3 separate regions of the Homo sapiens genome follow, and all the other regions are linked to region 1. Evidence: fine-mapped expression QTL. A gene starts in region 1. Each other region holds a variant in brackets. All regions are shown on one strand. Distances are between the middles of the regions. Region 1 holds the start of KCTD5 (potassium channel tetramerization domain containing 5). Region 2 overlaps KCTD5 (potassium channel tetramerization domain containing 5). Region 3 overlaps TSC2 (TSC complex subunit 2).

Region 1 (9,588 bases):
CCCACCACACTCCAGCCTGGGGGACAGAGCAAGACTCCGTCTCAAATAAATAAATAAATAAATAAATATATATATATATATATTTATTTATTTATTTATTTAATAATAAAAACCAAGTACAAACATGAAATGAAGACCGCCAGGCACAACCTCTCCTGACTGCACTGACCTGGCACCAGGTACGGGGCGGGGGCATCACATTTGTCATCTTCAGGAGAGGACGTCACAGTAAAGTAAGGACTTTACAGAGGAAGAAAGCACAGCTCACAGGGGCACGAAATCACCCCAAGTCATAAGGCAGGCCAGAGGTGGGCAGATTCCAACCCAGGCTCCCCAACTCCAAGGAAGATGCTCTGTCACATCAACCCCAGGCCAGAATGTTCTAGACATTCTGCAGTCCATGGAGAACTGCCGAGTTGACGCCCAGGGAGAACAAGCATGTCCTGGGAGAGAGATGGCTTGCTGGCACCTTTGCTACAAGGACCCCTCCCATGGCGCCAGGCAGGCAGGTTCTTCCCCAGGCTTTAAAGACCATGCCTGGGGACTGCTTACCTGGGGCGTGGAGGGGGGCTGCTAAAAGAACCAAAGTGCCTACAAGTGTCTGAAAAGGAGTCCCTGGGATGCCTGGTGGTTAACGACAGGGCCGGGGCGAGACCAGGCAGCAGGCGCCCCCATCACGGCCACAGCCCTGGCGAGGCTTTAGACCTCACTCCGTGACCTTTCAGAGCAAAAACGGCCACACACAATCCGTAAGCAAATGGGCATCTCTGCATTCCTGTAAAACTTTACTTGCAAAAACAGGCAGGTGGACCAGCTTTCTGACTCCTGCTCTAAACCAAGACTAGTCACTGCCCTGCTGGACGACAGCCACTGAAGGCTGTATCTGCAGGGCCAGAAAGAGGAACTGCCCTGCAGCGACAGCATTTCCTCCCAGCCACCCGCAGAAGTCTGGAGGCGAGAATGCCGAAGACCGCGGGCCCATGTCAGGTGCCCCGAAACAAGCTCTTCTCAGAAAGCCTCAAAACTGTTTTCTTTCATTCTTCCTAGGTAGGACTGAACCCATCAGAAACGTTCCATTTCATCACCAGAGTCGAGTCCTTTTCTCAGGAATTTATGGAACTGACTCGTGGCCTAAGGTCTAAAGGGCTTCAGGTGAGGCACCTGATAAAGAGGTGAGCACAGGTTTGCTGAGGACCAGCACCTGCTGCAGTGGGGAAGGAGCGGGGAGCCCCCAGCACCGCAGGGACCATCGCAGAGGTCCAGAATAGAAGATGACTTGTGGTCAGAGCGAAGATCGTGCTCAGAGCCACATCCTCAACTGAAGCGTGAAACAAAGTCCATCAGCGTCGCAGACACCCACTAACGGCCTCAAACTGAGGCCACCATAGCTCTCACCAGTGCTGGCTACACAGAACATCATCTGCCATCTCCACTAGACGTGATCCCCACTTCTCTTGCCAAGCGGCTTCAAAGACGGTACTCTAGCCCACACCCCATCACTGGGCCCTGTCTGAACAATTCCTTCCATAACTTTCCACCCCCGAGGTCTTGCCAACACCCAGTACACTGTTAGAGGCACCCTGACTGCCCCACCCCTCAAAGACCCATCTGATGCCACCACATCTGGAACCCTCAAGCCGGGACAACGGCCCTGTTCAAAGGGCAAAAGTTCACGTGCAGTTTTCTCCAAGGCTGCCTCAGCTGCAGGAACCGAAGCCTCCCCAAATTCTCCTCCATCTGAGTGGTTTCCAACCATAAAGCAGTAGTATTTCCTGTTTCCTTTTAACTCCTCAAGTATCTCCACACTAAAGCAGGGGCTGCTTTAGCTGGAAACAACAAACTCGACTTTGTTTTCAACAATGCCTATGGGCCGGGGACCATGCAATACAAGAGACCTAACCAAAATGAATCGAGTCTTTGGGAAGCCGTATTCCACCTGGCCTGCCCTCGAAGACACCAAGGAAGAGAAAGATGACAGAACAGCAGATGAGCAGATGCTGAAATGCTCACCACAGCCACAGTCCTGCTGGAGGAAGTCCCAGGAGGAAGTGAGAATTCACACCGGGCTGTCTAGAAAGAGAACTTTGTGGCAGCAGGTCGGCCCTTGGAACAGCAGAGTAAGGGCTTGGGAGCGTGGAGTATGGCGGGTGGTGGGTCCCAAGCTGGGCTCTGAGGACTTGGTTGGGGGCAGTCACAGCCCAGAAGCTTAGATGTGGGGCCAGAGGGCAATCAAGCCAGCCCCTTGATGTGCGTGGCTTTCACCACCCTCCCTAACAACCCGTCTGTCAAGAGCTCCCCTCCCTACCAGATAGGATGCTTTAGCAGGGTGCTCTCCCAACCTCTCAGGCACCCAAAGCTTCTGTGGTTTCTTGGGAACTCCTCCCCCTTAAATCTCCCCACCCAACTCCTCTCCAGACCCCCACACTCTGCAAGCCCAGGTGCTCACTCCACACAAGTCTAATAATCCAGGCAGGGACTCTTCCACCAGATCCATGCTTAAGTCCAACTCGAGGAATATTCTTTCCTTAATCTCAACTCTGAGGTCAGGCCTTGGAGATCTTTACAGGTGAATCAACATCCTGTTTGTCTTCCAACGTGTCATTAATGGCCTCCCACTCCTGACACCCCTTCCCCCCCTCCTCAGATTCCTCAGTCAGCATTTAATTAGGAGGAATCTCCTGGGACATTCTTTCATCAGAGCCACTGGAGACAAAACTAAGATGAAGCATTTTACACATTTCCTCATTTGATGAAAAACACCGGAAAACACTTTAGTAACGTGACTAATATGAATTAGCACTACACTTTTGGCAAACTATCTGTCACTAAAACTAACCTTATTTACTCCAATTATTGTTTTCTCCTTTTCTTTTTTCTTTTTTTTTGAGACAGAGTCTCGATCTGTCGCCCATGCTGGAGTGCAGTGGCGCAACCTCAGCCCACTGTAACCTCTGCCTCTCGGTTCAAGTGGTTCTCCTGCCTCAGCCTCCCGAGTAGCTGGGAGTACAGGCACGCGCCACCATGCCCAGCTAATTTTTTTGTATTTTTAGTAGAGACGGGGTTTTGCCATGCTGGCCAGGCTGCTCTCAAACTCCTGACCTCAGGTGATTCACGCGCCTCGGCCTCCCAAAGTGCTGGGATTACAGGCGTGAGCCACCTTGCCCGGCCCCTACTCCAATTATTGTATGAGACAGAGACGACTGTATCTGCTACTTTACCTTCATGTTCTGAATTTGAGTTTACCATTTGGAAATCAAACCTGGTTAAATGGATGATGATGAAAAGAGCAAGTATAACACAGATATATTCAGAAAGATTAATTACCCCTCGCTCAAAGAATTGATTCCTACAGTAAAGCATTTTTTTGTTTGTTTGAGACAGAGTCTTCCTCTGTCATCCAAGCTAGAGTGCAGTGGCGTGATCTTGACTCACTGCAAGCTCCACCTCCCAGGTTCAAGCGATTCTTCTGCCTCAGCCTCCAGAGTAGCTGGGACTACAGGCACGCGCCACCACACCTGGCTTATTTTTTTTTTATTTTTTTTTTTTTGTGATGGAGTCTTGCTCTTTCACCCAGGCTGGACTGCAGTGGCGCTAACTAGGCTCACTGCAAGCTCCTCCTCCCAGGCTCACGCCATTCTCCTGCCTCAGACTGCCTAGTAGCTGGGACTACAGGTGCTCGCCACCGCGCCTGGCTCATTTTTTGTATTTTTAGTAGAGACAGAGTTTCATCATGTTAGCCAGGATGGTCTCGATCTCCTGACCTCGTGATCCGCCTGCCTCGGCCTCCCAAAGTGCTGGGATTACAGACGTGAGCCACCGCGCCCACCTTTTTGTATTTTTAGTAGAGACCGGGCATCACCATATTGGCCCGGTTGGTTTTGAACGAGATCCACCTGCCTGGGCCTCCCAAAGTGTTGGGATTACAGGCATGAGCCACCGCGCCTGGCCCATAATTTTTAACAAAGTCTTAAGGAACAGTAAAGCAAAGGGATCAACCACCTTAACTGTGCTAAAGTTCATCAACTGGGAATCAAGTGCTCCAGTGCTGAATAGACAACCATTGCCTCAAAGAACCCAATGGACAAGAGCAATTTAAACTCTAATTTCATATACAAAACAGGAATGCTTGAGTAGAAAGGCAAGGGAGTGACCACTAAGCCCTGTTATTTAAAAAGAAAAACCAAACAGTAAAACATACACCCACACTTATAAAAGGAAAATCACAGCTAACAAACGCCTATTTCTATCCTGGGGATGACTGTCATTTCCTGGGAGGTCAATTCTCTGAGTAGAGGGCTTGGTCAAATGAGCAATGGAAACAGTTGGAAGTTGTGGGGAGGCACAGGAGGGTTGGCATCTCAAACCCTCATTTCCACCCACAAGGCTGCCTTAGCAGTAACTCCAGATTCTCACTTCCTGATCACGGTCATGCCATGCTGAGAATGGTCTCAGTCAGGCTTCTCAAACTTGAAGAGGGATCCGAACCTTTCTGGGAAGCCTCCTGCATGGCAAATGTTGGCTGCCAAGGCACAAAGCCAAGCGCAGTCATGTAAGCTCAACTGAAAGACCCCGCAAAGTTAGTATAAGGCTTGTGAACTGCCTTGAATAAATATAGGTAACAACTTCTTCAAACAGGCTTTTTTGTGAGTTTCAATCCTGCACAACTCCCAAGACACGGTTCCTCGGCTCCACAACTCTTGATAAATAAAGGTAGCAAAAGGTTTCTATTACCATCTACCCAACAGCATGAGCATTTCGCTTGATGAAAGACAAGCTGCAAACTAACCTGGAAATTCCTGTCCTTTTGCGAAGACAGTGGGAAAACTAAGCCAATTAGAAAGCAGATTGAAAGATTCCTTACCTGACCCTTCCTGGACATCCCTAAAGCAACCCTTAATATGAGCAAAATCCCCTTCGAAAAATCATACTATATACTACGGACGCATCTTCTAAGAGGTGCTGAGTGGGTGCTGCGTGCTGTGGATGGAAAGGATGGAGCGCCAACTCTCTAAATGCAAGTCACCAGGGAAAAAAAGGGCCGCCCATATCAACCCCCACGTCAGCGTTAATTCAAACGTCCAGAATGTGAAACAACGCCAAGGGTTCTGTTTCCAGAGCCAGCAAGTACCCTGGGACAGAGAAGAGAAGGCGTTCACACACCCTGGGCAAAAGAACCTAGTGAGAAAAAGAAAGTAGAATCACAGCAAAGTCCGGGGTCTAGGAAGCCTCCTCCACCAAAGAGCAAAGAGGGCGAGGAAGAGACACCCCCAAGGTGAATCGACTCAGGATCCTCAAAGGCAGTGGACGCCAGGGCGCCATCCTCACCCTCCCCTCCCAGGGTAGGGGATCGGGGCAAGCTGGGGAGGAGCTGGCGACAAGGGAGCGCGGGGCTCGAAGCCCGAGGAGAGTCGCCCGCTCCCGCTGAAGTCTCCTCCGCACGAAGCAGGGCGTGTGCAGGAGCCGCAGGCCGGGAAGGCCAGGACCCTCCGGGCTGGCCCGTGAGGCCCTCACCTTGTCTGAGTCCAGGTCGGGATCGGCCTGGCATAAGCGGTACAGGAAGGATTTCGGGTCCCGGCACAGGGTCTGCCGAGTGGTGAGGAAGTAGGTGCCGCCGACGTTGAGTCGGACCCACTTGGACACGCTGCCAGGGCGCTGGGCCAGGGCGCCGAGCCCAGCGCTGCAGCGGCGGCACAGGCCGCCCCCCAGCCCCGCCCCGATGCCGCCCCGGGCCGGCGACAGGAGCTCGCAGTGATTCTCCGCCATGATCCCAGCAAGCCCCGCAACAGCTCCCTTCCACCGGAAGCGTCCGGCTTTTAATAGCGTCCTCTGAGTTCTGTCCCGCCCACAGGTCCGCCCTGGTAGAGCGCCCGCCCCGGCGTCACGCGGTAGGCGGAAGTTCCGGTCCCGAAAAGCAGGAGGCTGGGCCCGCTTCCGGCGGGAGCGGAGCACGGGGTGATCTGGGCACTAACGCTGATGGGGAGCAGCGGACATCAGCCTCGACCTCCCACGAGCGGTGCACGAGCGCCTGACCCAGACCTCGACCCTAGCCTTCACCCCCACCCTGACTCCAGTTCATGAACTGGTCAAAGGAAGAGCCATGCCAGCAAACGTCTACACTGTACATGCTTTTTATTACAAGACTACGGAGCATAGGAGGAAAATTCATCATCTGGTAACTACACCTAAAGCACAAATATTTGGGGGGAAAAAAAGAACAGATTCATTAAATTATATGATTAAATCATTGACCCAATAGAAAATTTATATAATAAGGGCGGGGCCTGGTGGCTCACGCCTGTAATCCCAGCACTTTGGGAGGCCGAGGCGGGAGGATCAGGCGGTCAGGAGATCGAGACCACGCTGGCCAACATGGTGAGGCCCGGTCTCCACTGAAAATACAAAAATTAGCCTGGCGCGGTGGTGGGCGCCGGTAATCCAAGCTACTCGGGAGGCTGCGGCAGGAGAATGGCGTGAACCCGGGAGGCAGAGGTTGCAGTGAGCTGAGATCTCGCCACTGCACTCCAGCCTGGTGATAGGGCGAGAGTCTGTCTCAAAAAAAAAAAAAGAAAGTTTTTGTAATAAAGCCAGAAAAAAGTTGTAAAATATATAGTAATTATTCACATTCAAGGCTGTATATCAATACATATAACAACGTGGCCCCGAACATGAATTCAATACAAATAATTCATATATTAGAATTTAGGCCGGGCGCGGTGGCTCATGTCTGTAATCCCAACACTTTGGGAGGCCAAGGTGGGTGGATCACGAGGTCAGGAGTTCAACATCAGCCTGGCCAAGATGGTGAATCTCCGTCTCTACCAAAAATACAAAAAATTAGCCAGATGTGGTTGTGGGCGCTCGTAATCCCAGCTACTCGGAGGCTGAGGCAGAGAATTGCTTAAACCCAGGAGGCGGAGGTTGCAGTTAGCCGAGATCAGGCCACTGCACTCTAGCCTGGGCGACAGAGTGAGACTCCGTCTCAAGAAAAAAAAAGAATTTAAATAACAGGCTGAACTAGAGGCCAACAATAGCCAGCAAATAACCTTCTATAAGATTAAAAACACAAAAGTGTATATCCTAATACCATTGTATTATTTGTTTTCATGAGTTCTTTTAATTTTTGCTTTGTCTGTACATCACAGTTACAGCTACAGACCAGGTAGAGAATATTACGCATGTTCTGACTGCCACCCACCTGAAAGACGTACTAGTCATTTATCCTATTTCATGTTGTGAAGGAACAGCTACAGCAGCTCTAAATACTGTAACAATTTAATTTTGCCAACATCCAACTTAACAGTCGTAATAGAGGCTTTTACCAGCACAATGACCCCTATTCGTAGTCATTCTGCCAGACGGTTAGGCTATGTGGGTTACACAGCTTAAAAAAGGTCTGCCTTTTGTAAAAAGTTCTCTGTACATAGTTTGGTGTTTCTTCATATGGAAGAAATGAGTTATGGGGAAAATTCAGGTACACACGTAGGCTCGTTCAGTTGCTCACCACAGCCATCTCAACAGATGAAAGTGCTCTTTGTTGGAAACAGCTTCCTCCTCACACCAGTTCTCCACAGGCAGCCTCATCTACAACCCTGCAATTTTGGGCCAGAAGTGGTGGCCCCTCAGAGGCTCTGAAGTGCCTCCAGCCCCGATTCAGGCACTTGCCACGTGTGCTGCGTAAGAAGGGACCCCACCCAGTGAGTCAACATAGGCTCATGTCAAGTTTGAAAATAACTGGGGAAAAGTGTATGACAACATCTTCCAGAACATAGTACCTTCACCGTATTCTCACAGCAGCTGCGATCTCTGAAGTCTCAGCAGTGAGCACCCCGGGTCTGTCAACCAGCCAGGCAAGGGGGGGCCCTCAGGCTTCAGAGGGCAAGAAACCAAATTCCGTGCAATTTGGCCATAATCTCTGGTAGAGTGAAGCAGCACTGAACGCAGTGCCTAGAAAAACCTCCTGCACGTTCCCCTGCACAATCAATGGACCCCAACTACAGTGGAGAAATGAAGAATCCAACCAAATTTGGGTGGTCTGGACTTGCTGCCAGCCAGGCAATCTGCAACACTGTGGGCAGGGAGATGGGGGGAGGCGGCCTGAAATCTACACCAGCTGGGACAACCACGCCCTACAATGAAAAAGCCAGCCTGGCTGCTGGGCTCTTGTGAACCACTAAGACCTGAAGGTGGGGGGGTGGAAGGGGGAGACAAATGCACTCTTGTAAAACCCAATCAGCTACGTGGTTTTTTTCAAGTAGAGGCTTTGCTCTGCTACTGACTCCAAATGGCCTAATGTACTTTCTGAGTCTATAAACTTAATTACAGATCACTCACTAAGCATGTGGCAAGGTCAGTTCAACACTTGTTATCTCTGCTGACTGCGCAGTTGCAAATTCAATACCATTGTGGACATGAAGTACAAGATTCTGAAAATATCGCCAAGCGCTTGAAAGCCACGGCAGCAGGGAGGGCAGAGAGCTGACATGCAGGCAGAGCCAGGTTCTTGCAACCAAAACAAGGAAATTGGCTCTTGGAAAAAATCGGCCACAAATGGATTGCAGTAGTGACATCCTCTTAGCATTTAAATAAAGAGCGGTCTTATTCAGACATTCTTTGGAACACACGGCTTATCAGAAACCGATTTGTTCAGAATCTGTAAGACACAACTAAGGTGGTTCTGCTACTGGAACTGAGCGTCTACACATCAGGTCGAGAGAGAGACAGAAATATCTTCAAAATGAACAAACTCTTTCACCTCAAAATACCACTTCCAGGCATCTAAGGGGAAAAAAAGTAAGAAATCAGAAGATTTTAAAGATATTCATCACAGCATTATTTAAATAGTGGAAAAATCAGAAACCGTCAAGTATTTTACAGTAGGGAAATGGTCAGATAAATTATAGTAAATGGACAATGACTAAATAGTACAATTGTTAAAAACATGTTTCTGAGAAACTCATGACATGGGAAAATGCTTAAAATATCAAGGGAGAAGACGATGCAAACGGTGTGTGTCGGATGTTCCTATTTTAGTTTAAAAAGTGAACAAATGGCAGGGCAGGATATACGGCAAAATGCTCACAGTGGTCTTCTCTGGCCGGTGAGCCTACAGCTGATCTTGTCAGAGACAAACGTTAGTTTTACTGAGTCACCCAGAGCCCTGTGCTGGTGCCTGAGGGTTTGTTCCATGGGACAGTCTCCACAATTCCTCTGGGGAAGGGCCACAAATCCCACAGTGTGTCCCAAGAGGGCTGGAGTAGGCGGAGTCCCCAGCAGCTGTGGCATGACCAGCCATCTCTCTCAAAACAATTGTTAACAAGCCTTCTGCAAGTTAAGGTTCCACATGGTAGCCGTGGTACAGAGGCATTTCTCTAGGGTGGAGAGGCTTGTGCTCTACACCAGGACTGCCCACCGCCCTGGCTGGGGCCACACAAAGAGGGGAGAAAGGAATCCCTCAGAAGCCAGCCCCCAACTGTGTCCCAGAGAAAGGCGGGGCACCTGGGACACCTAGGCCGGCAGCGACCACAGCCTCCCTCCACTTTGTGCCGAGAAGCCGCACAGTGTGGTCCCGACATTCCACCTGTCCTTGCC
Region 2 (10,992 bases), 26 kb before region 1:
AGGAGTTGGAGGCTGCAGTGAGCTACAGTTGCACTGCTGCACTCCAGCCTGGGTGACAGAATGAGAACTCTGTCTCTAGGGGAAAAAAAAAATCGGAAACTCGGGCTGAGAGAGGGCAGGTCACCTGCCAGAGGCCCGCAGGTGGGGCTGGCCCTGCTGCACCTGGAGGGTGGTTCTCTCCGAGCCAGCCTTTCAGGTAGGCACTGTGACTGTCCCCACAGCACAGGTGAGAAAGCTGCATCACAGAGAACTTGTTAAGTGACTTGCCCAAGGCCACACAGCGGCCAGGGGTGGAGGTGGAAATCTGAGTCGGGCGGTCTGGCTTCAATGTCAACACGCATCACCGCTGCACCTGGCTGTCCTAGAGATGACTCTCGAAGACATTGTGCAGAGAGAGGTGTGGGGCACGGTGGTGGCCAGAGGAGCCCCAGCCCCTCCCGGGCCTGTCCCCACACGAGGGGCCGCCTCACGCCGCCTCTCTGTTTCTCCCGCCAGCACCTCTGAGACGTCCCTGTACCAGGTCCTGCTGGGGGCAAGGCAGCTAGTGCAGCCGGGACCACACGCTATGTATGCCCGGGTGAGGCAGGTGGAGAGCAACCCCCTGTACCAGGGCACGGCCTCCAGCGCTGACGTGGCCCTGGTGGAGCTGGAGGCACCAGTGCCCTTCACCAATTACATCCTCCCCGTGTGCCTGCCTGACCCCTCGGTGATCTTTGAGACGGGCATGAACTGCTGGGTCACTGGCTGGGGCAGCCCCAGTGAGGAAGGTAAGGGGACAGGGCTGGGAAAGAATGGGGGATATGCCTCAAGAAGGCCCAGGACGGCTTGGGGACCACTCTGAACCCACAATCTTCCTGTTGCTATATTAATACATACACACGGTCTCTGTTCACACAGGTGGGGCCGAGGGGAGCAGCAGCAGACCCAGAAGGAAGAGGGGGTGAAGGGAGAGGGGGACAGAAAGGGCCCAGCCTGCTGCCTGGAAGGAGGGAGGATGTCTGCCCCACAGTGCCCTAAGCCAGAGATGGTCTAAACATGAGGAAACGACAGGCAGGATGGAGTGGTGGTTCCCGGGGCCGTGGGTTCTTGATGAGGAAGTCCGTTGAGCCCTGGGCTGTTCCGCCCCTCTCCAGACCTCCTGCCCGAACCGCGGATCCTGCAGAAACTCGCTGTGCCCATCATCGACACACCCAAGTGCAACCTGCTCTACAGCAAAGACACCGAGTTTGGCTACCAACCCAAAACCATCAAGAATGACATGCTGTGCGCCGGCTTCGAGGAGGGCAAGAAGGATGCCTGCAAGGTGGGAGCAATGTGGTGTCCATGGGGACTCAGTCCCCACCGCCAGGCCCAGGGCAGGGTGGGATCATGCCCCGCTCCATGGGCTATGCATTCAACCAGCTGAGCAGCTTGTTTTGAAAAGGCAGATTCCAGGGCCGGGTGTGGTGGCTCACGCCTGTAATCCCAGCACTTTGGGAGGCCAAGGAGGGTGGATCACAAGGTCAGGAGATGGAGACCATCCTGGCTAACACAGTGAAACCCCATCTCTACTAAAAATACAAAAAATTAGCCAGGCGTGGTGGTGGGCGCCTGTAGTCCCAGCTACTTGGGAGGCTGAGGCAGGAGAATGGCGCGAACCTGGGAGGCGGAGCTTGCAGTGAGCCGAGATCGCGCCAGTGCACTCCAGCCTGGGCCACAGAGCAAGACTCCGTCTCAATAAAAAAAAAAAAGAAAAAGCAGATTCCTGGACCCCACCCCAGAAGGATCAGAGTCAGTGGGTCTGGGGTGGGGCACAAGAAACTGCATTTTCAACACACACACACACCCTAGTTGATCTGGGGACACTAAAGAATAGGCACTTTAGACAATCGGACTGGCAGGGGATGGGGAGCCGGGCAGAGAGGCTCTGGGATGGAGAGAAGGAATCCATTGCGGAGCTACACACCTCCTGTGCGGCTGCAACTGAGTCTCTGGGAACTCAAGGTGGGCTCTGACGGTGACTCTGCGTCCCCCGCAGGGCGACTCGGGCGGCCCCCTGGTGTGCCTCGTGGGTCAGTCGTGGCTGCAGGCGGGGGTGATCAGCTGGGGTGAGGGCTGTGCCCGCCAGAACCGCCCAGGTGTCTACATCCGTGTCACCGCCCACCACAACTGGATCCATCGGATCATCCCCAAACTGCAGTTCCAGCCAGCGAGGTTGGGCGGCCAGAAGTGAGACCCCCGGGGCCAGGAGCCCCTTGAGCAGAGCTCTGCACCCAGCCTGCCCGCCCACACCATCCTGCTGGTCCTCCCAGCGCTGCTGTTGCACCTGTGAGCCCCACCAGACTCATTTGTAAATAGCGCTCCTTCCTCCCCTCTCAAATACCCTTATTTTATTTATGTTTCTCCCAATAAAAACCCAGCCTGTGTGCCAGCTGCCCACGTGGGGATCCTTGGGGGACCCCGGCGGGTGAGGAGCTGTGAGTTGCAGGATGAAGCCCAGGTGGGAGATGCGGAGTGCTCTGGTCATCTCTGAATCAGCAGAAGGGAGCTGCAGCTGGTGCCCGAGGCGAGGACAGCACCAGAGTATGGGACCCCTGTCACGGGCCCCGCACAGGAGGCCACCTGCTGCCACCTGTGCCTCTGTTCTCTCACCTTAAAGGCCGCCCCAGGGTTGGCACTGGGGACAGCGACGGACACAGGTGGAAAGAGCCTCAGGGCCATGCAGGAGCTGTGCCGGGGCGAGAGGAGGGCATGGAGGGACTGGCTGGGCGGGGGCACCTCAGCCTCCCAAGCCTGCACTTCCGGCTGCCCGTGTCTCGGGGCCACCCAACTTTTCTAAACCACTTCGGCAGGAGTGGGTGCCCACACCTGTGCTTTCCTGCTCCACTGCTCCTGGCACCCTTCGTCTCCCTGTGCCCCGGCGTCTCCCCTTGACCCTTGGCTCCTCTTCCTCCGCCCCATCCCTCAGTCTCCACCCCCATGCAGGAGTCCAGAGCAGTGCGTGGTGGCAAGGGGATTAGGCTGGACATGCACATCACACCCACACGCACCCGTGCACACACACACAGGCACCGTGGCCTGTACAGCGGCAGGAAGAAATCAGGCCCTGAGTGTCCACCAAGGAATCAAACCAACACCCACTCAGCAAGCAGCTGCTGGGGACACCGTGGGGAGCAAAACAGAAGGAATTCCCCGCTGGGCCCGACCCATCTCCCCAACGGCTGCCCAGTGGCCCCCGTGGGCCATTTCTTGCACTCCTCCAGCCCAGGGGTGGGTGGGCAGGTCTGGGGGGCCTGTGCGCACAGCCCCATGGGGGAGCAGATGCACGAAGCCCAGGTGGAGGGAGAGGCAGGCCCAGGGAGCAGCACTGGGTGGTCCTAGCCAAGCAGGGACTGGCCAGGCCTCCCAGCCTCGGAGAGCCCTGGGTGAACCTGCACCCTGCTCTGGGCTGTGCAAGGAGCCCCAGGCCCCCGTGGTCAGAGGGGAGGCTACAGGTTAGATGGTCTAGGGAGGGCAGCCCCTGCTGTCTTTGTGCTGAGACCCCACCCAGACCCAGGATGTCAACAGGCAGATGCCCGTGGGAGAGGAGCAGAAAACACTCTCTACAGAGACTAGGGGTTGAGAAGGGAAAACAGGGCTATTTCATGCAATTAACAGCTCCCACGAAGCATGCCGTGAGAAGGACGTTAGGAAGGGAATAGTCCAGGTTGCCACAGGTCCCTTTTCCATCCTGGGGCGGGGGTGCAGCTCAGACTTTGCACGCTGCTGCCAAGCAGGGCTCTGAGCCATCTGCCAGGTGGGCGGCAGCAGGGCCCCTGCCAGCTCCAGGAGGGACTCGAGGGAGAGCCTGGCACAGGCCCGCGCACATTCTGTGGCTCACAGGGAGGTAGGCAGAGCGGGCGGCAGCCTTCATCCCCAGGCTCAGCTGGCCCATGTGCACACATACACACACCATTCCCATGCCACTCACAGGCACACACAACACATGCATGTCACATGCCACACACAGGCACACACCACATACCAAGCACACACCACATGCCACACATCACATACAGCACACATGTGCATGCCACACACACCATGTGCACACAGGCACACACCACACCCACACCATGTACAGCCAGTAGGTACACACACACACACACACACACACACACACACACACACACACACAGAGCAGGAGCGGGAGCCCCAGGAAAGAAGTCTGTGGGCTCCATTCGGGCCAGAACTGCGGTGAGGGGTCAGCCACAGGCCAGGCCTCCCTGTGCCGAGCCCCAGGCCTGGGAACACTGGGGAGGAAGAGGTGGTCTGAGGGCAAAGTGACCCATCTTGGGGGGCACGGCTCAGTGCAGAGGTGCCGGAAGTCATCGTCCCTCACACAGATGCCACGTCAGGGCCTTGGTGGCTGCACTGTGGGGTCAGCTCTTCATCGCCCCAGCCGGCCACTGCCACGAGCTTTAGGAGGAAGGAGGGTGCTAGAAGTCCCTGCTGAGTGGACACCAATAAATGCAGGGATGTCAAGGAGGGTGGTGCCAGCCGCTGGAGGGCTCCAGTCATGGGCTCTACAGGAAGCCTGGGGAGGACGGGCACCCACGCAGGGCACCTGCATGTGCCCCGCCCCTGCCTCCTCTTCTGCCCCCACGCTGGCTTCCTGGAGCCACAGGGCTGGGCCCCAGTCCCCACAGCGGGCGGGCTGTGCTGGAGCCCAAGGTCTGAGGAGGAACAGGGCTCCCTCCCTGCCCAGCAGACCCAGCGGCCCTGAGCATCCTCGGCTTCAGGACCCAAACTGCAGGGCCTGTCTCCTTTACAGCCTTTTGCTTGGATGGGAAACCTGCTCCGGGCTTTGGCTGGGGACGCCTGCCACGCTGAGGCTTCTCCCAAGTGCCCACAACTCTACCTGGTCAAGGGGCTGTAAGGCCTAGCCAGGCTCCTGGTGGGAGTCGGGCAGCGGGAAGACCCCTTGGAGCAGAAACTGGGTCTCTCCCCTACTCCAAGCCCCGTGCCGGCCTCATGCTGGGCACCCAGAAGCCCAGTCACCCACTCCACCCCTCACCAGGGCCCTGGGGTCAGGCTGGGCCAGCCACACACCTGGAAACAGGATGGACAAGGCCACTACAGCCTGAGGCTCTGTGACCTCAGACAGCCAGGCCCTGGGGGACACCGTGAATGGGAATCTCCCTGCGGGGGGGCGGGGAGTCCAACAGCCAAGGCTTCGTGGAGCAGCCACCAGGAGGAGTCACAGCAGCTGGCGAGGGGGTGCCGGGACCCCAGGACCTTCTCGGGAAGCTCCTGCTGTCACAACCCAGGCTGCAGGCTAAAGTGAGGGAAGAGAGGTGGATGCTAACTTGAGGTATCAGGACTTTCAAAAAAACATCACTTGAGCCGCGCGCAATGGCTCACGCCTGTAATCCCAACTGCTCAGGAGGCTGAGGCAGGAGGATCACTTGAGCCCAGCAGTTCAAGACCAGCCTGGGCAACATAGCAAGACCCCTGTCTCTTAAGGAAAAAAAAAGGCCCTTGTACATGGTCTCCGGTCTCCCGGGATGGGGGTATGCTATCTGCTGGAGGTAGGTGAGGGGTCCAGGCAGAGTGGGGTGCAGGGATGGGCCGTGCAGCTCTGATCCAGTGACCCTGGCCAAGCCGGCACCCCGTGGATGGCCCAGCTCCGCCCTGGCCATCGACTGAGAGGCAGAGGCAGAGCCCTGAGTGAGCCGCCGCGGCCAGTGGGGCTGGGCGGCTTGGAGGGGCAGCACCTTGGTCCGAGCGACCCGGGGTGGCATTCCCCTGCATCTTAAGACCATAAACAGCTACTACGCGCATTCATAAATACACAATTTTATTTGCTATTTCCAGGGGAAACTTAGGCATTAAACTGTAAGCTGATAAAATACGATACCTAAAAAAGTATAAAAGTATAAATATCCCCTTAGAATAAATTTTAGTGAATTAAGTCTTAATATCTTTAAATTAAAAAAACCACAAGCCTATCTACTATGTCAAGGTCAAAAATCAAACAACGCTAAGCGGCCAGCAGCTCCCCAGAGAGGATGCCCAGGAGCCCCAGCGGCCGCCTTCCTCCCAGGCTCTGCTGGGGCTAAGTCTGCCTTCTAGAAAGGCTTTTATAAATTGTTTAAGCCAAACATTTAACAACATACAAGAGACCTTACAAAAAGAAGGAGGTAAGTCCTAATGCTGGAGAATTGGTTAATCAGGTGACTGGCAAAGAGGAGGATGAGGCCTAGGCAGGAAGTCTCCAGAAGCATTGGAAACCAGACAGTGTCAGAGCCTCTGACCTGCAGGCGGGAGGCCGGTGGTCAGTCTGCACAGTACCCCTTGGGAAGCCGGAGTTCCGGAAGCAAAGCGCTTGGAGCCCGCCCTGCACGCCGAGTCCCCAGACTCTGACAGGTCCCCACAGCCAGCTGAGAAAGGTCTGTTTTCAAAGCATGCGGGCAGCGGTTTCTAAAGGAATCCCAGCAGCTCCCACGGCATGTCGGGCAGAGCCCGTGCAGGTCGAGTGAAGTCCCAAACATCCCAGAAAGAGAGGGAAGGCTGCATAGTTATACAAAG[A/C]AAATGAGAGAGCGGCGAGAGAGAGGCATTTGTGATGCTCTGTAAACATCCCGAATTTTCACCGTGACGCAGACCTTCAGCTCCAGAAGCCAGTGGACAGGCCTCCAGCCCAACCTCTATGCCAGGCGTGACAAGGCACTGACAGACGCCAGCTCCCCGTGAGCCCGCAGTGGGAGGGGCGAGGCGACACTGCTACCTCGCGCTAACGGATGGAACAGATCAGTCTCCACGCGGCAAGCCCTGTGGGCATTTCCAGAGGAAAAACGCTGGGGAGTCTATCCACACAGAGAAGGGGTACAAAGTTCTCTTGCCTGGAAAATACAAATTGAGAAGCCTTGACTGTCCCGGGCTTGGTCAGGTGGGGTTGGAGCCCGTGTCAGAAGAAGGCCCGGCCTCGGAATGGCGCCGGGAAGCAGTGACGACGCAGAAGCCGCCTTTGTCAGGAGCTCTGCGAGGTCGAGAGAAACCAGCGATCCCGCCTGGGAGGCAGAGCAGACTCCCTGACCGAGACTAGGGCCTGGTGGTCGGACCAGAGGCCACGACGTGCTGGACACTGACGCGGCTGCGGCCGCTTCCTGCCAGTGAAGCCCAGGCTGCTTTTCCAGACTGTGTGTAGCACCAAGAACGCTTCCTTCACACGATCTTCAGGATCGAGCGGGCTGACTGGGAGTGTCTGCCTCAGTCCCACGTGGCACTTGGAAAAAACAGAGCGAGGCCCCCCCAAGAGGCAGCGCCCACCCGGCCGCCGTGCTCCCCCAACTTGGGGACGTCTGGCCTTGGACAGCTGGGCCCGTCTCTCACCACCCACCTCAGAGGCAAAAAAGGATTCACACCCAGATCTCTAGAAAAATGATCAAAAGCAGGTTTCTTCTCACAGCCAAGCTTCCTGGACATGGCAGTTCATTACATCTCGGGAAAACGTAAATCATTTCTTCAGCTGTCAATACTGTGTCCCTCACATCCTTGAGCCTCGTTCTTGCAAAATCTGAAAAACACCAAATGCATAAAATGAGGACTTGGGCTGAGGAGGTGTCCCTGACCAGGCGCCTGCTCCAGAAAACAGAGCCCACAGGCCTGGGGTTAGCTCGGGGAGCCCCGGGAACCCAGCGGCACTGGCCAGGGTCTTGGGGACTCAGCTGGCAGGCCCAGGACCTTCACCGGGGTGTCTGGCACATCTCCAGGCCCCACACAGGGAGCGCTCACTGTGCATGGCAGCCCCTCCCAGACCCACCCAAAGGCGCTGACTCTTGGGCCTCTCAGCCCACTCAGTCCTGGGCCTCAGACATGAAGCGCAACTCGGCCCGCGGGTCCCTCAGCAGTCCAGTCCCCCCTCCCCAATTAAGTCTCTCCCTCTGTTCCTCCATGCCCACTGCAGCCCCCACCCCCACCCCGACGCCCGGACCCTCCTGGAGATGCCCCTCACCCAAGCCCTCGGCCCTGCACCTCAGCCTGGCCAGCCCACCTCATGTGCTGGCCCCTCCCGACTGCCCCATGGAACAACCACCAGCCCTCAGAGGGCCCTACCCCAAGTGCAGATCACGCTGCGGGGATCCCCTCCTCATCTGTACCACGTCAGCCCTGCAGAGCCCACGGCCCCTCGGCCCCCTGCCCTCCCCACCCTCCAATCTCCTCAAAACTCTTCCTCAAGGTACCCTCCCCACTTCCCTCACCAGTGTCCAGGAACCCCCTGAGGCCACCCCCAAGTCGGCCTGGGCTCCCCTGAGGACAGGCTCAGGCGCTGGCCAATGCTGCTGAGGTGAACTCCCAAAATGAGCCATGGCAGCTCCAGAGACCAGGTGGAGGGGAAATCACCCCACGCTCCCGAGCAGAGAGCTTCGGAGCCAGCCAGCCTCACTGTGCGTGGCCCACAACAGCTGTCTCCATGTGTCACGTGAGGGCTGCCCAACACCAGGTAGGGCAGCAACGCCCACGCCCTCGCCGGGCACAGCCTCCCAGAGGTCACTGCCATGCCGCACTGACCGGAGAGAGGGCAGTGGTGAGAGGTGCATGCCACCCCAGGCTTGTTCCGAAGGCTCCTGGAGGCCACGTCCCCTGAGCTGCTCAGCCTGACTCCAATACTCCACCCCCCAACAGCTCTGCCGTTCCCAGGCGGGTGCCCCCCAGGCTCAGTGCCCTGGACCACTTCTAGCTCGAGGCTCCCACTCACTCTCCAGTGCCTCGGAGGAGCCCATCCCCCTGTGCGAGGGGCAGCACGTCCCTCCCTGGGCCAGGGTGATTCCCAAGTTTACTGGGATGTCTGGAGTTGACTTGGGGAGACAGTGCAGCCCCCAAGCCCCCACCAGCCCTGTGTAAAACTAAGTAGCGCAGCGGACAGGCCAGGAGCAGTGTGGCATCTGAGCATCCGGGAGCCCCAACAGCTCCCTCCTGATGAGGGCAGGAGACACCCTGGAGACCTGCAGCCAAAGTGCTGTCCTTCGCCCTCCCAAGGCCGGGAGCAGCACGGGCTACTCTAGACAGAGCCTGGGGTGAGACCCATCTTTTCTGGACACACTGTCTCCCTAGGCCATCTTCCACAGGAAGGTCCAACTGCAGACACCAACCAGGGGGCCCTTGAGGCTGTACCCCATGGCCAGACACCCCCACAGGCAGGCAGGCCCGGGTGGCTGAGGGGCTTGCAGGACACGGCTGGCCTGGGAGGCTTAAGCGCATCAGGGATGCCGCAGGATTTGGCAGCTGAGATAGGGGTCTGCTGTCTGCCGCACTGGTCCTGACCCCTTGGCCCTGAGCCTGTGGCCTAAGCCAGACAGGAAGGTCACCCACTAGGGCTGGCGGCACGAGTGGCACTCCCTGCCCAGCCCCCAGGAGGGGCTCTTGGGTTCACGACCACTGATGTCCACAGCCTGGCCTGGCACGGGCACCCTCCAGTCATCCCAACAAACGCCCCAACACTGCCCCTGGGCATCTGCCTCACAGCAACAGCCCCACCACCAAGACAGTGCTACTGAGGATCTACAGCTGGCATGGAGTGCGGACGGCTCTCGTCAACTACAGGCAGGGACAGACACACAGGGAGGGTCTGTGGCAAGGGTCAGCTGGGGCCATGGGGTCAAGGAGGCCACGGAGCTCACCATGACATTCACACTTAATCTGAGCCACTCCCTGGGTGCCCCTGGTCCTCGTCGTCACTCTGGCGGCGTGCAGCGCGCAGTGGGGGAGAAGACAGGCTGTCAGGACAGTGCGGGTGGGCGGGTGCCCCGGGCCCAAACCCCCACGCCCGGTGACCTTCCAGTGAGGCCACGCCACGAGGGGACACACAGGCTCAGGGGCTCTGCCACATCTCAGAGGTGGAAACCTCCACGTGTGAGGCGGCTGCATCTTGCGATCCGGGGCTGGTCCTGTCCCACCATGTGCTGAGGGGCTGAACCCTGTCCAGAGGCGCCTGGCCTCTGGCCCCACTCCTGGCAGGCGGCGCTAGCCCACAGATCTCGGCCTGATAGGAGGGCCTCTGCTGCGTGGGCTCTGTGGACCCCACTGCATTGGCCCCACTGCTGCAGGAGGGAGGGTGGGGCCCTGGGTCACAGGAGGGATCAGCCACGGGGGCAGGCGGTGGATGCACCCATCGAGCATGGCTACGCAATGGAGCCCCAACACCACCAAGGAACCCCCTCCTCAGCCGCCCAGGCACTGGGAGACCCCGGCCTCTGCCCAGGTGCCCGCCCTTGCTGATCTGAGCCTGTCTCTCTCTGTTCCTTGGGAATAAATGGCGGCCTTGAGTCTAAGCGCTCTCAGTGAGCTCTGCGAGTCCTTCTAGCAAGTTCTTGAGGGACTGGCGTGGGAAGCAGGTGTGCTCATGTGTGGACCGCCTTCACTTGCTACAGGTGCAACCCCTCCCGCCCCACCACCCAGGCTCTCCCGCCGCCGCTGACTGAAGTGGGGGACAGCTGCCCAGCAGGGCCAGGCCACACATGCTGCAGGGACACCAGCGACGAGGGCCCACAGCCCATGCGGCCCTGCGCAGCCCAGCCAGGGGTGCCCCCATCACGGTCCTCCAGCTCTGGCCCCCGCAATCCCCCACGGCCTCCTGAGGCTCTGGCCTGAGCTCTGCCTCCTGGGGCACTGCTGACACCACCCCCATCAAGAAGCCGCCATAGCTGCCCCACTTCAGAGCAGGTATTTTTGGAAAATGAAATAGGGCCACATTCTCAACCACAAAGGGATTTGGGGTCATGCCTGGAGCTTCCTCACAGTACAGAGCGTGTCCTTTCTGCAGCTGCCAAGCCACCTGAGGGATAGGAGCCCAGGGGAGCTTGGTTATAAAAACTCAGCTCAGAAATAAAAAACTTCTAAAAATAAAACCATTTAGAAAAGAGCCCTACGATTGCTCCAAGAGGAAGAGAAGTGCCTCCTTGTGACTGAGCTGGGGCTCTCAGGGAGCCAGGGGTCGCCTCCTAGATCCGAGACTCAAATGGAAGAGCATCTCCG
Region 3 (8,000 bases), 620 kb after region 1:
GCCACTTCCACTTAAGGAACAGGAAATGTATTTTCGCTTCCTTATGATTTTTTTTTTTTTTTTTTTTTGAGACGGAGTCTTTCTCTGTCGCCCAGGCTGGAGTGCTATGGCACGATCTCAGGTCACTGCAACCTCCACCTCCCAGGTTCAAGTGATTCTCCTACCTCAGCCTCCCGAGTAGCTGGGATTACAGGTGCGCACCACCGCATCCAGCTAATTTTTGTATTTTTAGTAGAGACGGGGTTTCACCATGTTGGTCAGGCTGGTCTCGAACTCCTGGCCTCATGATCTGCCCGCCTCGGCCTCCCAAACTGCCAGGATTACAGGCGTGAGTCACCATGCCTAGCATCTTAACAGCATTTGCTTTTCTCTAGCTTACTTCACTGTAAAAACACAGAATACATAAAACACACGAGCTGTACATTAATAGACTGTCTGCTATCAGCAAGGCTTCTAGTCAACAGAGGGCTGTTGGTAAAGTTTCTGGGGAGTTAAAAGTTAGATGGGGATTTTCACCTGCACAGGGGCTGGCACTCCCAGCCCCATACTGTTCAAGAGTCAACTGTGTTACTTTTCAATTATAACAAAAGAAATGAAAACAGGCCAGGCACGATGGCTCACGCCTGTAATCCCAACACTTTGGGGGTCTGGGGTGGGTGGATCACTTGAGGTCAGGAGATTGAGACCAGCCTGGCCAACATGGTGAAACCATGTCACTACTAAAAATACAAAAATTAGCCAGGTGTGGTGGTGCGCACCTGTCATCTCAGCTACTCAGGAGGCTGAGGCAAGAGAATTGCTTGAACCTGGGAGGCGGAGGTTGCAGTGAGGTGAGATCGTGCCGCTGCACTCCAGCCTGGGTGACATAGTGGTGAGACTCTATCTCAAAAAAATAAAGAAATGAAAGCAGCCAGAACCAGGACTCTGCCTCAACTAGGAAATATCTCAGTTCTGCAGCCCAGACCCTCAGGCCTCCAGGGCTGGAGTTCCAAGTAAGGGCAACAGAACCTCTTTCCTTCCCTCTGCAGAAGCAGAAAGGTTCTCAGTTCTCCCAGGCCATAGGCCCCCACAGCCCAGCACACCCCTTCCCAACCAGTCAGTAAAGAGCATGGTGCTCATGTGGATGAGACACCAAGGAGGTGATGCCTGTTTTTGCTTTGTTTTGTTTTTGAGACGTTGTTTCATTCTTGTTGCCTAGGCTGGAGTGCAATGGCGTGATCTGGGCTTACTGTACCCTCTGCCTCATGGGTTCAAGTGATTCTCCTGCCTCAGCCTCCCGAGTAGCTGGGACTACAGGCATGCGCCACCACGCCCGGCTAATTTTGTATTTTTAGTAGAGACGGGGTTTCTCCATGTTGGTCAGGCTGGTCTTGAACTCCCAACCTCAGGTGATCCACCCACCTCAGCCTCCCAAAGTGCTGGGATTACGGGCATGAGCCACCACACCCGGCTGATGCCTGGTTTTTAATCAAACACCACGGCCAGGTGTGGTGGCTCATGCCTGTAATCCCAGCACTTTGGGAGGCTATGGTGGGAGAACTGCTTGAGGCCAGGAGGTTGATGCCAGGCTGGGCAACATATAAAGACCCCATCTCTACAAAAAATGAAAAAATTAGCCAGGTGTGGTGACGTGTGCCTATGGTCCCAGCTACTTGGGAGGCCTCCGAGGCAGGACGATCACTTGGTCACAGGAGTTCAAGGCTGCACTGAGCTATGGTCACAGCACTGCACCCCAGCCTGGGCGACAGAGTGAGATCTTGTCTCAAAAAATTAATTAAAAAAAAAAATCATCACCACTTTCAACTTCCATGGCAAGAAATAAAAACCCATGACATATAAACATGACAGGAAATTGTTCTACCATCCAACATCTTAAGGATGAGCTTTTGAGCAAACTGATTCATACATTATATTTTACACGATACTGACACTGACAGTCACACGTAAGTGATGCTGTGAGGCTTTGAAAAGTAGAGGCAGGCCGGGCGTGGTGGCTCACACCTGTAATCCCAGCACTTTGGGAGGCCAAGGCGGGAGGATCACCTGAGGTCAGGAGTTCAAGACCAGCCTGGCCAACATGGTGAAACCCAGTTTCTACTAATAATACAAAAAATTAGCCGAGTATGTTGGCAGGTGCCTGTAATACGAGATGCTCAGGAGGCTGAGGTAGGAGAATCGCCTGAACCCAAGAGGCGAAGGTTGCAGTGAGCCAAGATCGCGCCACTGCACTCCACTCCAGCCTGGGCGACAGAGTGAGACTGTATCAAAAAAAAAAAAAAAAAAAAAAAAGATAAATCAGAACCCTTACATGCTGCTCGAGTGGATGGAAAATGGCACAGCACCAGTGGAAAACAGCCTGGTATCGCCTTGAAACACCAAATGCAGACTAAACCTAGGGCCCAACAATTCACTCCTAGGTGCAGACCCAAAAGTGAAAATGCAGGCCCGGCGGAGCCCTCGTAGGAGAAGGTTCACAGCAGCACCACTCACCGCAGCTGCAAGGCGGACACAGGCCAAATGTCCACCAATGGAGGAACGGACAGACAAAATGTGCTCCTTCCAGATGATGGAATACTACTCAGCCATGAAAAGGAGGGGAGCACCAACAGCTGCCACAGCCTGGACGGGCCTGGACACATGGCGCTGGGTGGAACAATCCAGTCAGCAGACAGGAAACTGTTCTACCATCCAACATCTTATGGATGAATTTTGTGTGATTCCACTTCCATGAAATGTTGAGAGTAGGTAAATCCACAGAGACAGGAAGCAGCTTGATGGTACCCGGGGGTACGGGAGCAACGGGGGATGGGAGCGTGTGCTACTGGTATGCTCAGGAGGTTCTCAAGCTGACTGTGGGGTTGGCTGCAGAGCTCTGTGAATTTACTGAAAACCACTGAACTGTTCACTGTGAATGGGTAAATTGCATGATATGTAAATTAAATCTCAACAAAACAGCTGCAAATATTAAACGGACTGCAGGGCAGGAATGGAGGGCCACCCTTACTTCCCAGGTGCTGTGCTGGGTGACGAGGGCAAGCGCCACGCTGAGGATGGTACATGGTTCCGGCCCTGACTCAGGAGCACAGAGACAAGCTCTGGTCAGGGCGTACAACGGGGCCTCTTGCATCCATCCCTCCACAAGAGCAGGAGGAAGGTTCTGCTGCCTGCTGAGACCACCGCACCCTCAGCAAATCCAGGGAGGGTGTGGGTCCCGCTGGGGAACAGACTCCAACACAACGCAGATGCAGCTGGTGGACGCTAGCCATGCGCGCCCCGGGAGCAGAGGCCTCGTGCAGAACACCCACCTGAAGGATGACCAGAAGCCCCAGGACGGCTGTCTTCACATCCTCCAAGGAGGCCGAGTATGCGGCCACATCCCTTTCTTCCAGCTCCGGGGGTGGGGAGAGGGAGCGGGCCATCACCTTTGAAGAGAAGGCCAGGACTTACACACAGGCTCATGGTTCTGAGTCAGCAGCCGTGAGAACACTTTCTACCACAAACACCTTTTTTTTTTTTTTTTTTTTTTTTGAGATCGAGTCTTGCTCTGTCGCCCAGGCTGGAGTGCGGTGGCACAATCTCAGCTCACTACAAGCTCCGCCTCCCAGGTTCACGCCATTCTCCTGCCTCAGCCTCCCCAGTAGCTAGGACTACAGGCGCCCGCCACCACGCCCAGCTAATTTTTTGTATTTTTAGTAGAGATGGGGTTTCACCGTGTTAGCCAGGATGGTCTTGATCTCCTGACCTCATGATCCGCCTGCCTTGGCCTCCCAAAGTGCTGGGATTACAGGCATGAGCCACCGTGCCCGGCCCTTTTTTTTTTTCTTTTTGAGACAGAGTCTTGCTCTGTCGTCCAGGCTGGAGTGCAGTGGCAGAATCTTGGCTCACTGCAACCTTCACCTCCTAGGTTC[A/G]AGCGATTCTCCTGCCTCAGCCTCCTGAGCAGCTGGGATTGCAGGTGCCCGCCACCACGTGCAGCTAATTTTTATATTTTTAGTAGAGACAGGATTTCACCATGTTGGCCAGGCTGGTCTTGAACTCCTGAACTCAAGCAATCCACCTGCCTCAGCCTCCCAAAATGCTGGGATTACAGGCGTGAGCCACTGTGCCCGGCCTTCATCTTTATTGCTCAAAAGCAAAGATGCCCTTTATACCCGAGTGACTGTGCAGAAACCAAAATGCATCTGAAAATCAAAGAGCAAAGCTGTTGGCTGGGCAGGGAGGACGGCAGGCCAAAGCCCCAGCCCCAGGTCTGGGCTCCAGCGTCGGTCCAGGAGGCCCAGCCCAGCTGTCCCAGAGTGTGACAGGACACCCATGTCCAGGACTTTCAGTCAGGACACAAATCCAGCAGTGGCAGGCCCTGCACAGGCCTCGGGACACCCACCCTGCAGGGAGGGGAGCCTCACCTACGGACACAGCCATCCGGTCACTCGAAGAGGAGGACAGAGGGCCCAGAGGCCATTGCTGCCCACGGAGCTCTGGCACGCTAGCACCCGGCCCCGGGTACAACGGCTCTCACCTTCTCGATGATGTCCAGCAGGCTGTTGAAGTGGTGTGTGTGGCAGCCCTCTGCCAGGTCCACCAGCAACTGGGTGGCCAGCTTTCGGACCTGGTGGTCTTTATCCTCGGGGATGTGGGAGAGCTGCGAGATGACCACTGAGTTAATCAGCTCCTCCTGCACAGGCACAAGGGAGGCCAATGAGCGCCAGCCCAACGAGGGCCACATCTCGTGACACTTCCAATTCCTCAGGAACCGACCCGCAAGCAGCGGACATGTCCCTCGGGACTTCAGCACAGCTGGGCAGAGAGCACAAGCACCCGCTGAGCGCGACTCAGAGACCCCGGGGCCCCTTCCAGGGATCCTGTCCAGCTCCTCGTTCAGAAGGCTGGTGAGCACCGCAGGGCGGCCGGGCACAGACACGGGGCCCACAACTCACAAGGAGCAGCCGAGGTGAGGCCCTGCCCTTCACTGTCACAGCCGAGAACCCCTCCCACATGGTGCTGTGCGTGTGTGCGTGAGGGTGTGTGTGGCTGTGTGCACGCGTGGGCATGTGCACGTGTGTGCCTGTGCATGCGTGAATATGCGTGTGTGTGCGTGCTGTGCTGAGGACAGCGTGAGTTTTCACAGAAGCAGGTAAAAAGTTCCACAGGAACAGAGACCAGGACAAGACCAGCCCTGATGGGAGAAGCCAGAGGACCCAGAGGAACTTCCAGGAGGCCCTTAGCTCCCTCAGACAGAATGCGGGATCGCAATGCCCAGCAAAGGGCAATTCAAGGACAGTGGACGCTGGGGAGAGGAGCAGAGTGGGCAGCTCTCAGGAGGGCAGGACTGCGAGGCTGCAGGGAGGAGTTCGGTGGGAAGGGACAGCCTCAGAGCCTAAGCTGCGCCTCCTGGGAAAGGGGTATGACTGGCAGGCACACAAATGTCTCTCAAGGAAGGTGGGCCTGGGGCCACAGAGCTCCCAGAGGAGGGAGTGGAGAGGGAGAGCCCGCAGAGGAGAGACCAGGCAGGGCTGGCGATCACGCAGGTGCACAGGGTGAACGTCAGGACTGAAACGGAAGACAATGTCCCCATGCAAGACTGGCTGAAACGAACTCACACAGAATTTTTAAGAGGCTCCTGTGTTGGGTGAAAACCGGCCGGAGCTCCCTGAGGGCAGGCACTGTGCCTTCCTTGCTACTTGGCCACGTGTCAAGGCCTGGCAGAGGCACCCAGGACGAGCAAGCCAGTGAATGAACAGGGGTAAACAGACCACGCTGGGGGCTGCAGAGGGTCCGGCAGGACCGAAGTCCCAGGCAGAGCCCGGCTCTGCGGGAGCACGTGCACAACAGAGACAGCCCGCCCACGGAGAAATAGCCCTGAGCCCCCAGCTGCGGCCGCCTGGACACGCACCTCATAGAACTGCCTGTTGATGAGCAGCACAAAGGACAGCACGTCCAGCACCTTGATGCGCACGGCGCCTCGGGACTCGCTCCTGCGGGACGGCAGCCTGCTGGGGCGGGTGGGGAGTGCCCGGCCACAGCCCCACACCAGCCCGTCTGCCTGGCGCAGGCCAGCCCGACTCTGGGTCCTCCCGCGGCCAGGCACACAGGGCACAGAGCTCTGCTTCCCAGGGAGCATCTCTCCAGACGACCCCCGAAAAGAGGGAGCCCAGTGGCGTCATGAGAGGACCTGTCCTGCTGGACTGGAAAGCAAGCTAGCACCTGCTCACCCAGAGCCAGGGCTCTCCAGAGGCAGAGGGGAGGGCCCTGCTCATCGGGCATCCTGAGACCCAGCCCGGGTGGGCCCCAGACAGAGACAGGGCCAGGCTCCAGGTGCCAGGCAAGGCTACAGAGGACCCCCTACCTGAAGAATCTCTCCATCAGCGCCTGCAGGTTCTGAATCCAGCCGTCCTTGGCCGGGTGGATGGACTGCGCTCTATAGGAGATCAGGTTCAGGAGGGAGGACTCCTGTCAAAAGAAGAGCCGGTGTTGCCCCTCTGCCCCTCCGGCGCTCTCCTTCTCCACACTGGGCTGCTGGTCGAGAGGCTGGTTTGCTGTCAGAGCCCAGCCGCCTCACAGCCTGCAGCCCACAGCCCAGACACAAAGGCACTCCTGGCAGCGGGGAAGACTTGTGTCCAAACCCATGGAAAAGCCTGGGCCCTAAGCTGAGTGTTCCTGGCAAAATGACTGCGGCCGCCTGGGAGCCACAGGACTCTACAGAGCCGGATGGAAGCTTGCTCCACACAGGTGGGAGGAAACTGATGGGTGGGCTAGCCCCGAGCTTGTTACCAAACACGTGCTGTGCCTGCCAGCCTTCCCTGCCGAGTGCAGAAACCTGGAAAGCAGGCGCCCACCTGGCCCTTGGCTTCTGAGGCTCAGAAAGCTGCACTTCACCCAGCACCCGGCCCCTCCCCACCAGCCAAAGCCCAAAGGCCCCACCCAGGAGGGGGTCTCACAGGCCTCTGGTCCGCACATCTCTCCACCAGTTCAAAGTATCTCTCCTGAGACCCGTGGAACTCGTTCTGGTCACACAGCTCCTCCACCGTGGTCAACAGGTCATGGACGATGGTCCTGAGCTCCGGGCTGTCCAAGGTCTGCAGTACCAGGCACGATGACACAGGCTGACTTCCACTCCCCACATGGACTTGGCACCAGAGGCCTCGCTACACACCCACCGCATGGAGACACCCTCAGCCCTCTCAGGCCGCTCTGGGCCGCATGGGGACAGACGCCCCCAGCCCTCTGAGGCCGCTCCGGGCCTCATGGGTTGAGACACCCCCAGATCCTCTCCAGGGGCCACCCTGACCCACGTGGCCCAGGACACCCCCCAGATCCTCTCAAGGGGCCACAGTGGCTGTGATGGCAGCTGCTGTTCCTGCCCGTACCCCACCCCCCAAGGAATCTTGGCTGTGCCCATGCAGCTGGGCCAAGAAGGAAGCTCGGGCAGGAGGGCCAAGAGTAGCCACAACTACAAGCCTTTCTTGCCTCTCCCAGGTCCAGCCTCTTTTAGAAGCCCCAGGCTATGACCTCTGCCACTGCCACCAGCGGTCGGGGGCAATGCTCTGGCCCAGCGACAGGCTCTGAGAGGACTTCAGTCCCTGCTAAGTCCCGGCGAAGTCCCGGCCTCCCTTCTGCTGCCTGGCCTCCTGTACATCACCCGCCCCAGGCTCCAGGAAAAGGCACAGCCCTGAGGCTGCTGGATACTAGCCTCGCCTCCCCAGGGCCCCTATGCTGATGAGCCCGTGTGGCCGTGGAGTCCTCCTTAAAGCTGTGGTTAACAGACTCGACTAATGCGGTCCTCCAAAGTCATGCGGAAGCCACACTGGCATCCCTCTGGGAACTGTGCCGGGGCCCACTCAGGCCACGAAGGCGGCCTGCAGGTCACTCTGCGGACTGTGGACAGCACTGGCCCAGCCCCGGCTCACCTACTGCATATTCCTGTCTGGGGCCTAAACGATGCACCACGTCTGGAAAAATCAGACCTGTCTCCGGTGGAAGGTGGATGAGCGCCACTGCGAATCACC

The links.
Region 2: its variant is fine-mapped to the expression of KCTD5 in whole blood (INTERVAL, PIP 0.99).
Region 3: its variant is fine-mapped to the expression of KCTD5 in esophagus mucosa (GTEx, PIP above 0.99).

What each region holds. Positions count from the first base shown.
Region 1 is chr16:2,678,724-2,688,311 of GRCh38, reverse strand. KCTD5 (potassium channel tetramerization domain containing 5) reads right to left here and starts at 5,789. Exons shown (of 6, transcript NM_018992.4): 1 at 5,512-5,789. The coding sequence starts at 5,763. RefSeq lists enhancers at 841-1,130, 1,491-1,540, 5,107-5,156, 5,227-5,276, 4,821-5,431 and a silencer at 5,527-5,706.
Region 2 is chr16:2,703,840-2,714,831 of GRCh38, reverse strand. KCTD5 (potassium channel tetramerization domain containing 5) reads right to left here. Exons shown (of 6, transcript NM_018992.4): 6 at 5,802-7,534. The coding sequence ends at 7,505. PRSS27 (serine protease 27) reads left to right here. Exons shown (of 6, transcript NM_031948.5): 4 at 496-767; 5 at 1,134-1,303; 6 at 2,018-2,410. The coding sequence ends at 2,212. Among named protein-coding and RNA genes, the nearest start is that of PRSS27, 11 kb to the left of the region's middle. The variant A/C (reference allele first, on the strand shown) is at 6,550.
Region 3 is chr16:2,060,941-2,068,940 of GRCh38, reverse strand. TSC2 (TSC complex subunit 2) reads right to left here. Exons shown (of 42, transcript NM_000548.5): 12 at 6,933-7,070; 13 at 6,341-6,444; 14 at 5,888-5,969; 15 at 4,514-4,669; 16 at 3,306-3,422. Among named protein-coding and RNA genes, the nearest start is that of TSC2, 17 kb to the right of the region's middle. The variant A/G (reference allele first, on the strand shown) is at 3,909.